Homo sapiens: one gene and its partners. The protein of the gene in region 2 purifies or fractionates together with the protein of the main gene of each other region. This does not show direct contact. Each region holds a gene or a part of one and is shown on either strand. Other genes may lie near its edges.

Evidence for each region.
Region 1: the proteins of GNA15 (region 2) and MNAT1 purify together in Homo sapiens (affinity purification with mass spectrometry; one large-scale study listed by BioGRID and IntAct). This does not show direct contact.
Region 3: the proteins of GNA15 (region 2) and MLF1 purify together in Homo sapiens (affinity purification with a luminescence readout; one large-scale study listed by IntAct). This does not show direct contact.

The regions. Positions count from the first base shown.
Region 1 is NC_000014.9:60,737,677-60,741,335, reverse strand, and holds part of MNAT1 (CDK-activating kinase assembly factor MAT1), read right to left. Parts: intron 1-3,659.
Region 2 is NC_000019.10:3,152,975-3,156,633, reverse strand, and holds part of GNA15 (guanine nucleotide-binding protein subunit alpha-15), read right to left. Parts: intron 1,617-3,659; exon of another isoform or gene 1,459-1,616; intron 812-1,458; coding exon 682-811; intron 1-681. UniProt on the Homo sapiens protein: Guanine nucleotide-binding proteins (G proteins) are involved as modulators or transducers in various transmembrane signaling systems.
Region 3 is NC_000003.12:158,591,694-158,595,352, forward strand, and holds part of MLF1 (myeloid leukemia factor 1), read left to right. Parts: intron 1-740; coding exon 741-888; intron 889-1,688; coding exon 1,689-1,733; intron 1,734-3,659. UniProt on the Homo sapiens protein: Involved in lineage commitment of primary hemopoietic progenitors by restricting erythroid formation and enhancing myeloid formation.

The DNA of each region.
Region 1 (3,659 bases), on a different chromosome or scaffold from region 2:
GGTGTGGTGCCATGCACCTGTAGTCCTAGCTACTCAAGAGGATGAGGCAGGAGGATCATTTGAGCCCAGGAGTTTATGATTGTGCCACTGATATTACATGGGTTAAAAAATTTTTTTAAAGTAAATGAACGGAAAAATGCACACTATCAAATAGTAAGCACAAGAAATCTGACAGTGCCAAATTATTATCAGACAGAATCTTCAGGAAAAAGCATATTACAAGAGACAAAGAGGGCCATTTCATAATGATAAAAGGAGAAATGTATTAGGAAGGCATAACAATCCCAAATATGTACCCAACAAGAGAGTTCCAAAATGCATAAAGTATGACAAAACTTACAAGAAAAACTGACAAATCTATAATCATAGTGGAGTAATTCATAAGATGAGTAGATAAAATAAATTAATAAAGATACAGAAGATCTGGTAATGCTATCAACCAAGATGGGTATGGTAATATGTACCACGTTTATAACTTATACTACACTACACCCAACAACCACAGAATGTATATTCTTTTCAAATGTACACTGATTGTTCACAAAGACAGGCCATATGCTGGACCATAAGCAAGCTTTCAGAAAACTTCAAAAGACTGAAATTTTATAGAGTATATCCTCTTATCACAACAGAAAATTATAAAATAATATATCTAGAATGTTCCTGTTCTAAATCTTCCACCTAAAATAAGTGCCTTTTCCTAATTTTCTACCCAGAGGGGGCTCTGTTTCCCAATTTGCACAAAGGTACTGAATAAGATCAGTATATTAAATGAGTTAACACCACTTATTATTCTTATCAACAAATAAATTCAAACTTAATCTGATAAAACTTTTAAACATAACTAACAATTTAGAGGAAATACTGAGAACAGAAGAACATATTTAACAATATCACAGAGATGCAATAAGCAAAATTCGGACTCTTCAGGATAAACTATCCAGTAACATCAGTAAATGAGAGAGAAATAGGAGAACAGAAAAAAAAGGGAAAAAAAGAAAGAGAAAGATGTTAAGTAACTATCACAAAACATTGCCTTTATATATCAAGATGGTAGGTACTTGATTTTGCTTATCTTGTACTTTGCGTCTCGTGCGTGATGAAAAAAGTAGATTTAGCACATAAAATTTCCAGAGACAGGTTTTGCCAAGAATGGTTGGGATAGAAATTAATTTTTTTTTAAGATGGAGTCTTGCTCTGTAGCCTAGGCTGGAGTGCAGTGGTGTGATCTCGGCTCACTGCAACCTCTGCCTCCCAGGTTCAAGTGATTCTCCTGCCTTAGCCTCCCCAAGTACCTGGGATTACATGCCCATGCCACCACACCCAGCTAATTATTGTATTTTTAGTAGAGACGGGGTTTCACTATGTTGGCCAGGATGGTCTCGAACTCCTGACCTCAGGTGATCCACCCGCCTCAGCCTCCCAAAGTGCTGGGATTACAGGCGTAAGCCACTGCACCCAGACAGAAATTAAATTATTAAAGGCTGTAGTTAAATGAGAATTAGATACCACTGCCTCCATCTAATTCTATATGCCTTCAGAATGGAAGGCCCATTTCTTGAAATAGGTGGCCTGATAAAGAAAAAAAATTACCATTTTCTGTAATTGAGACAATGTTCATCCTTGAACAGAAAAAATTAAAAAAAGAACATGAAATCCAATCTTCTTCTATATGCATACAATCAATTCATTTGTGCATTTGCTAGATTAAATTGATAAGTAGGGAAATATGCTTCTTCAATTGCTAGCAGCTAAGAGACAAAGGTATTTAATAATGTTTCACCTCTTTTCTCTCCTCTCTGCTCCTGTATTTTCTCCCATAAGTAAAACTCCTAGTTAATTTTTCCATAACCCTATAGTTCCTCTTTTATGAAGCACTACTCCTACTCACTTTATCACTTGCCTCCAAAAAGTCTTTGCTACTTGAGGACATGAAAAAAAAAAAAATAAGTTAATAAAATCCTGCGGAAGCCAGCCTTCAAGATAGCCCAATGATATTCACACTCTTGGTATTCACACTCTTGTGTGTACTCTCCCACATTATAACACTACAAAACACCAGAGGTGATGGTATATCACTTCTATCATTAGGTTTTAAAAGGCTCTACAGCTTCCAGTTCCCTTCCTCCCTCCCTTTCTCTCTTCTCCCATCCATCTCTCCAATCTTCCTTACCTCCGCTCATATCACTAGTTCTGGGAGAAGCCACGTCATAAGTAGCCCTATGGAAGAGTCCATGGGGAGGAACTGAAGCCTCCTGACAAGAGCCACATGAGTGACCTTGGAAACAGATACTCCAGGCCCAGTCAAATCTAGACTGCAGTCCTAGCCAACAACTTGATTACAACATCCTAAGACCGAGCCAGAATCATTCAGCAAAATAATACCTGCTCTTCTCAGACTAACAAGCATATTATAAAAATGCCTATATTCAATCCCATGAAATATATGCCATAAAAACTCAACAAACTATCAAAAAATTTTTCATTAAGAGCCAAAATGAGGCTGGACACGGTGGCTCACGCCTGTAATCTCAGCACTTTGGGATGCCAAAGCGGGTGGATCACCTGAGGTCGGGAGTTCAAGACCAGCCTGACCAACATGGAGAAACCCCATCTCTACTAAAACTACAAAATTAGCCAGAGGTAGTGGCGCATGTCTGTAATCCCAGCTACTCGGAAGGCTGAGACAGGAGAACTGCTTGAACCCGGGAGGCAGAGGTTGTGGTGAGCTATCACGCCATTGCACTCCAGCCTGGGCAACAAGAGCAAAACTCCATCTCAGGCCGGGCGCAGTGGCTCACACCTGTAATCCCAGCACTTTGGGAGGATCGAGGCGGCTGGATCACGAAGTCAGTAGTTCGAGACCAGCCTGGCCAACATAGTGAAACCCCGTCTCTACTAAAAATACAAAAATTAGCCGGGCATGGTGGCATGCGACTGTAGTCCCAGCTACTCGGGAGTCTGAGGCAGGAGAATCACTTGAACCTGGGAGGTGGAGGTTGCAGTGAGCCTAGATCATGCCACGGCACTCCAGCTTGTGTGACAGAGCAAAACTTCGTCTCAAAAAAAAAAAAAAAAAAAATCCAAGATGTTTTTCTTATCAGAAAAGCATCTGATAAGATGCTTTTAAACATCTTTTAAAATGCAAGATTTTAAAAAATAATATTAGCCAATATAGGCAAAGTTGTGTGGCAATAGGAATCTCCATACAGTTGTTGGTAACATAATTGACAAGATCTTTTTTTTTTTTTTTTTGTAAGATAGGGTTTCCCTCCTGGCTAACACGCTGAAACCCCGTCTCTACTAAAAATACAAAAAAATTAGCCGGGCGTGGTAGCGGGCGCCTGTAGTCCCAGCTACTCGGGAGGCTGAGGCAGGACAATGGCGTGAACCCGGGAGGCGGAGCTTGCAGTGAGCCGAGATTGCGCCACTGCACTCTAGCCTGGGCGACAGAGCGAGACTCCTTCTCAAAAAAAAAAAAAAAGGATAGGGTTTCCCTATGTTGTCCAAGTTGGTCTCGAACCCTCCCTCCTCAGCCTCCCAAGTAGCTAGGATTACAGGTAGGAACAACCATGCCTGTCTTGACATAATCTTTTTTGAGAACAACTGGGCCATATTTATCAAATTTAAAAGCCACAAACTCTGACCCAACAATTCTA
Region 2 (3,659 bases):
GTAATCCCACCTACTCCGGAGGCTGAGGCAGGAGAATGGTGTGAACCCGGGAGGCGGAGTTTCCAGTGAGCCGAGATCGCGCCACTGCACTCCAGCCTGTGCGTGTGCGTGCATGTGTGTGTGCACGCATGTGTGTGCCTGTGTGCCTGTGTGTGCGTGTGTGTGCCTGTGTGTGCGTGTGCATGTGTGTACTGTGTGTGTGCATGTGTGTGTTCATGTGTGTGCGCATGTGTACATATGCGTGTATTGTGCACGTGAGTGCATGCAAGTGTGCATGTGTGTGGTGCATGTGTGTTCGTGTGCATGTGTTGTGCATGTGCACTGCGTGTGTACATGTGTCCCGTGTGTGCACGTGTGTATGTGCATGTATTATGCACGTGTCTGTGCGTGTTTGTGTGCATGCATTGTGTATGTGCGTGTGTGCACTGTAGTGTGTGTGTGTGTGTGTGTGTGTGTGTGTGTGTGTGTGTCTGGGGTCCTGACCAAACAAATGCTGTAGGTCTGTGTCTTGGGTTGCTGCAATCTGACCACAAAAGGCTGAAGGGTCAAGTTCATAGCCATGCTGGGCACACACAGGCCCGTTCAAGAGCAGGGATCCCTCCCTTTCTGCACCAGAGCTTCCTGCTCAGGTGAGGGTCCCTGGGCCAACAAGTGGGCAGGGCGAGGGAGGCGGTGGCGCACCTCCTGGTTGTTCTCCTCCAGGCACTGGTCGTATTCACTCAGTGAGGCCAGGTAGATGAGGGCGATCACGTTCTCGAAACAATGGATCCATTTCTTACGCTCTGACTTCTGGCCCCCGACGTCCACGATCCTACAGGGAACCGAGGTGCCCCCTTTCAGAGCTCAGGAGCCTGCTCCGTGACACCCCCAACCCCCATCACGTCTGGGATATGCCAAGATCCATAATAGCGACAGCAAGAATAGGTGCTAGCCTCTCGTGGATTTGCCATGTCATTCCCGCGAGGCAAGGATGAGTCTTACGCCCATTTTACAGATGAGAAGCCTGAGATCCAGGGAGGAGCGGGGACTTTCCCAAGCTTCTACTGTGCTGGGCTGCCTGCTTTCTACCCCCATATTAGAGGGGAGCAGGTTGGACAGATCTGAGATGTGCCCTGGTGCTGGCTGGGCGACCCGGCGGAGGAAATTGCCAAACATCTCCAAAACTCAGTTTTCCCATCTGTGCTATGGGGCTCCTGTGCTCTGGCTGGCCATGGGCATGTCCAGTGGCCACACAGATGGGAATGAGGGCTGTTCCCAGAGCACACGTCCTCCCCTCCATCTGTGACTCAGCCCCACGCACCGTAACAAAAGCCTGAACCCTGCCCCCACCTTCCTGTTCTCTCTCTTCTGAGAAATGTGGGTCGCTGATAACCATCTGTGCGTCATTTCCCTGGGGATGCAACCGTTACTCAGGAAGTCCCAGAACAGAGGCTTTGGACGGGCCCGGCCCAGGGCCTCAAGCAAGAAGGGACTTGCCCCATTGCACAGGAGGGGAAACCGGGACTGATGATGAAGCAGTTAGGCTGCAGCTGCTGGATGTGTCTCCTGATCCCTGAGACCCACTCCTCCCATGCATCCTCAGAGTCCCTCAAACCCCACATCCAGAGCCAGACAGGGTAAGCAGCCGTCGAGAGGGGGCTCTGGAGACTGAGACGGGAGTGGGATCAGCAACTGACCAGTTGGGAACTGTGGGCATCACCTCTCATCTCGGGTCTCAGTGTCCTCTGAGCCCTCACTCCATTCATTCGTCTCACTCCTGGGCCACACCTAAAAATCACTTCCTTGGCCCAGACTTCCCCATGATTTCCCAGCCTCTACCTTCACTCCTAAACTTTTATCCACCCACCCACCCCATTCATCGATTTATTCACTCATCCATCCACCCATCCACCCACCCACTCATCCATCCACCCATCCAGCCATTCACTCATCCATCCATCTATCCATCTACCCATCTATCCATCCATCCATCATCCATCCACCCACCCATCCATCCACCCATCCAGCCATTCACTCATCCATCCATCTATCCATCTACCCATCTATCCATCCATCCATCATCCATCCACCTGTCCACCCATTTACGAAATCCACCCACCGACCCACCCATCCATCTCTCCATTTACTCATCCATCCATCCATCCACCCATCTGTCCACCCATTACCCAGCTACCCATCCATCCATCTACCCATCTATCCACTCACTCATCCACCCATGTACCCATCCACCCACCCTCCCACCCATCCACTCATCCATTCATCCACTCACCCATCCACCCATTCATCCATTCATCCGTCACCCACCACCCATCTACCCATTCATTCATCCATCCATCCACTCATCCACCCATCCATCCACCCATTCATCCATCCATCCATCACCCACCACCCATCTACCCATTCATTCATCCATCCATCCACTCATCCACCCATCCATCCACCCATTCATCCATCCATCCATCCATCCATCCCACCCATCCATCCATCTATCCATCCACCCATCCATCTATTCATTCACTCATCCATCCATCTATCCGTCTATCCATCTACCCATCTATTCATCCATCCATCATCCACCTGCCTGTCCACCCATTTACTCAATCCACCCATCCATCCATCGCTTCATCTACTCATCTATCCATCCACCCATCTGTTCACCCATTATCCATCTACTCATACATCCATCTACCCATCTATCCACTCACTCGTCCACCCATCTACCCATCCACCCACCCACACCCCCATCCACTCATCCATTCATCCATCCATTCACCCACTCATCCATCCATCCTTCACTCACCCATTCACCCATTTATTCATTCATTCATCCATCACCTGCCACCCATCTACCCATTCATTCATCCATCCATCCACTCATCCACCCATCCATCCATGCATTCACCCACCCATTCATCCATCCATTCATCCATCCCACCCACCCATCCATCTATCCACTCATCCATCCATCCTTCACTCACCAATCCACCCACCCATCCATTCACCCATCACCCTTCCACCCATCTACCCATTAATTCATCCATCCACTCATTCACCCATCCATCCACCCATTCATCCACCCATCTATCCATCTATCCACTCATCCACCCACTCATCCATTCATGTATCACCCATCCACCCATCTAACCATCCATCCATCCATCCATCCACTCATCCCTCTTTCAATCCATCCATCTATCCATCCATTCATCCATCCACCCACTCATCCATCTATCCATTGATTCATCCACTCATCCATCCTGCCACTCCATCCATCCACTCATCTATCCCTCAACTTATCCATCCATCTATTCATCTATCCATCCACCCATTCATCCACCCATCCATTCCCTTCCATCTTTCCTTTTTTTTTTTTTTTAAAGATTCCCAGACCAAGTATCTCTCCCATAGAAGTCATCCTTGGGTACTAACACTACTATTGTGTCCCAGAGCTGGTTCCTTCTCGTGGGTTCTCGGTCTCGCTGACTTCAAGAATGAAGCCGCAGACCTTCGCAGTAAGTGTTACAGCTCTTAAAGGTGGTGTGGACCCAAAGAGTGAGCAGCAGCAAGATTTATTGTGAAGAGCGAAAGAACAAAGCTTCCACAGCGTGGAAGGGGACCCGAGCGGGTTGCCCCCATTCCATCTTTCCAACCATCCACCC
Region 3 (3,659 bases), on a different chromosome or scaffold from region 2:
GGGTCAGTAACTGTCCAACTGGAACAAAGTTGGGAAACCACTGTGATAAGGTAAAAAAAAAAAATTTAGGTTCTTTAATGAGACTTGTGATGAAAGGGTAAATATCAGATTATAGTGTTGGTATTTTTATGCAATATGGGATAAATAAAGATGTTTTTTTTATTATGCATTAAATGAATTATATTGGATAACAGTAACAGGTTTTCATTAATTTTATTTATAACTACAGATGCTTCTCAACTTAACGATAAGATTACATTCCAATGAACCCATCGCAAATTGAAAATATTATACATCAAAATGCATTTAATACACTTAACCTACCGAGTATCATCAGAACATACACATTAGTTTACAGTTGGGCAACATCATCTAACATAAAGCCTACTTTATTATAAAGTGTTGAATGTCTCATGTAATTTATTGAATACTATACTGAAAGTGAAAACCAGCATGGCTGTATGGATCATTGAAGTACTGTTTCTCCTGAATGTGGAGTGCTTTCATACCACAGTAAAGTCAAAAAACCTTAACTTAAACCATTGTAAGTAGGGAACCATCTAATAATGGATCTTTATGAGATAATTCTATTCTATTTATGAATAAAATAGAGTTCTCTTCTACTCTTCTTTTATCTAACAAACATATTAGCCCAAAATAATTATTTGTAATATTTACCTGCCTACTTACTATTTAAACTCCAACACTGAATCTTTCATGATTATGTATATTTTCAACAGTGAGTCCATTCTTGCACACCGAGAAAATATGCGACAGATGATAAGAAGTTTTTCTGAACCCTTTGGAAGAGACTTGCTCAGTATCTCTGATGGTAGAGGGAGAGCTCATAATCGTAGAGGACATAATGATGGTGAAGATTCTTTGACTGTAAGTTCTTTTTTTTAAGACAGTTAGTGAGAAGGCCCTGTAGGAATTTGAAGAAAAGTATTACAGAAGTATATATCTATAATGATAGGATATGACTAATATTCTTGTTCTAGAAATCACTATTATATAAAAGGGGGGACCTTTGGAAAGGTGAATCCTGAACAGTGACTTGTCAGCTATATGGAATTTCACTGTGCTACCAAAACTGTTAGGTCCATAGAAGCATATATTAGAAGCAAAACTTAAACCATTATTTTTTATATTTATGTATACATTTCTCACCTTATAACTTCCTCTGATATCTGAAATTAGAACAGGCAAGGAAATATCCTTTCTCTCCCATACTCATTGTTTTAATACTTGAAAATAGTATCAAAAGCTACAAAGGATTGTCTTTATTGGACCAGGAAACACTGATCTTCTATATGGTTACGTATGGACCTTCAAAGCTTAGATTAACCTTTGCTTGTATCTCAAAAGCCTTACAACTGAAATATATTTTCATATGTCTTGCCTTAGAGCAAAGCTAGAGGTTACAAACATACTCAACTAAAAATTAAAAAAAAAACAGGATATTTATATATTGTAACCATTTTCTTTTTTGCCTCTTTTATTTCTTTTGCTTTTTCAGCCTCATGAATGATAGTTCTAAGATAACAAGCCCTCAGGGGTTTCTATAAAGATGAATCTCAGCAATTGAAATGTAGCAATTTGAAATTCAGTAAACATTTAATTGGTAAATTGAGAAACTTCTATATAATAAATGTCATAATCAAATGAATTGGATATTATTTTTCCAGGCAACGAGTTGTTCTCTTGTGCCTTTTGGCGATTTTGGTGGTATGGTTCGTATCTTAAGACACAAATCATTTTAGCAATATTTTCTGACAAATATTTATTTTTCATTAACTCAAGCTGACTGAATTGGCATGCAGCCTCACTTCCATAATGGCTTTTTAATGTTTGTACTGAAAACCTCTGTTTCAAGTATCAGACTTACCTTAGAAAGTTTAGGCACATGTTTCCTGAAGTAAGTCATTTCAACATATATAAAATTCATCTTCAAAAATAAAAAGTAGATTTTATTGAATGAATATTTGCTTGATTTACAAAAGGGATCCTCATAGTTGTGTTTGAAAGTTGGGGACTTCCACATGCTTATGATTACTTTCCAAAAGGTTTTTTAAAAAGTACTAAACTGTAGATAGATAAGCACAACGTTTGGAAAAGCACAGATTAACTGCTTTCTCTAGGATTTTGTTGCCACCTTGCCCAGGCAGCTTTTTCTTGTCTGTTCTTAAGAATGGCCACTCTGCAACCAGCGTTTCTACCACCTGTTTCTTAGGGTTTTTGTGCTGTGTCTGTGATGCTAGCTTCCAACACACTAAAAGCATTCTGGGGAGTAGCAGAAAATAACATGAATTTGGAACATTTGTATCTACAGTCTCATGAAAACGGTTTTTTTTTAATTATTTTGTGCTACAATTGAATCATTTGTTTCCTTGAAGTTTGGCATACAGGTATAACATTTATCCCTCCTGACCAGAGTATTTAGTAAGACAAATAACAAAAAAAAGCAGTTATAACACAGAGTTATGAGTAAAATGATCAGGAAGTTCAGCATGCTATGGGAGCACAGATGGAAAAAAGCACCTTTTGAGGTGGGGTGGGTCAATCCAAGTAGACTTCTTGAACTTTAAGGATTAGTAGAAGTTAGCCAGAAAAGGAGGGAGGGGAAAGGAATACTGTTCAACAGAGAGGAAACAGCATGTGCAAAGACCTGCAGGCTAGGGAGCTAAAACATGTTTAGTATCACTTAGCCCTGGAGTATGAGTTGAACAGTAGATACTGATGAGGAAGAAGAGGTAACCAGAGACTTCTTTAGACCGTAGAAGGAGAGTAAACATCATCTTAAAAGCAGAGGAAGCAGTGATGACTTACGTCAAAGTGGTAATAGAGTCATATTCTTGAAATATTAGAAGAGACCATAGTGGAGGCAGGGAAGCCAGAAGGCTGTTGAAGCATTCTTGGTAAAGTATTAGTGATGGCTTACTTCTACTAGGTAATGTCTGTGGTGATAAAAATGAATTACCTCATTTGAGAGAGAGTTAAAAGGGCGAATGGATGGAACTTGGTGATTGACAGGGTTGAAGGAGCAGTAGAGAGGGAGAAGGGAAGTATCACACCCATTTTTCTGGCATGAAGAATAAGGTAGATGGGAATGCCACTGAGATAAGGCATTGATTCAGTACAGATACAGGAGTGAGGTGGTCAAAACAATCATTTTAGTTTTGGATGTTTGGCATTTGAGGCATCTGTGAGTTTTCCAGGTAGATTTATCTGGTAAACTGTTGGATATATGGATTTGAGCTGAGCTAGAGATAATTTATTCATTCATTCATTCCGCAAATATTTATTAAACCCTCTTAAGTGCCAGGAATTATTATATATGTATTGGGGATATTGTAGTAAATAGACAAAATCGCCCTGCCCTCAGAGATTATTTTTATAAAGTGGGAAGATAGACAATAAACAACAAAATAATTTCAGATAGTCACAGTACCCTGAAGATGAAACAGGGTAATGATACAGAGATGGGGGGAAGTGAAGGAGGGATTAGACAGGTGACCAGCGGTGGCCTTTCTCAGGTGGTGATACTTGAATCATGAGAAGGAACTAACTAGGTTTAAAGTCAGGAGGAAACATTTAAGGAAGAAAGAGGAGAATGTGTACAAAATTTTTGAAGGCCTTAAGGGCCCACTGAAGTCTCA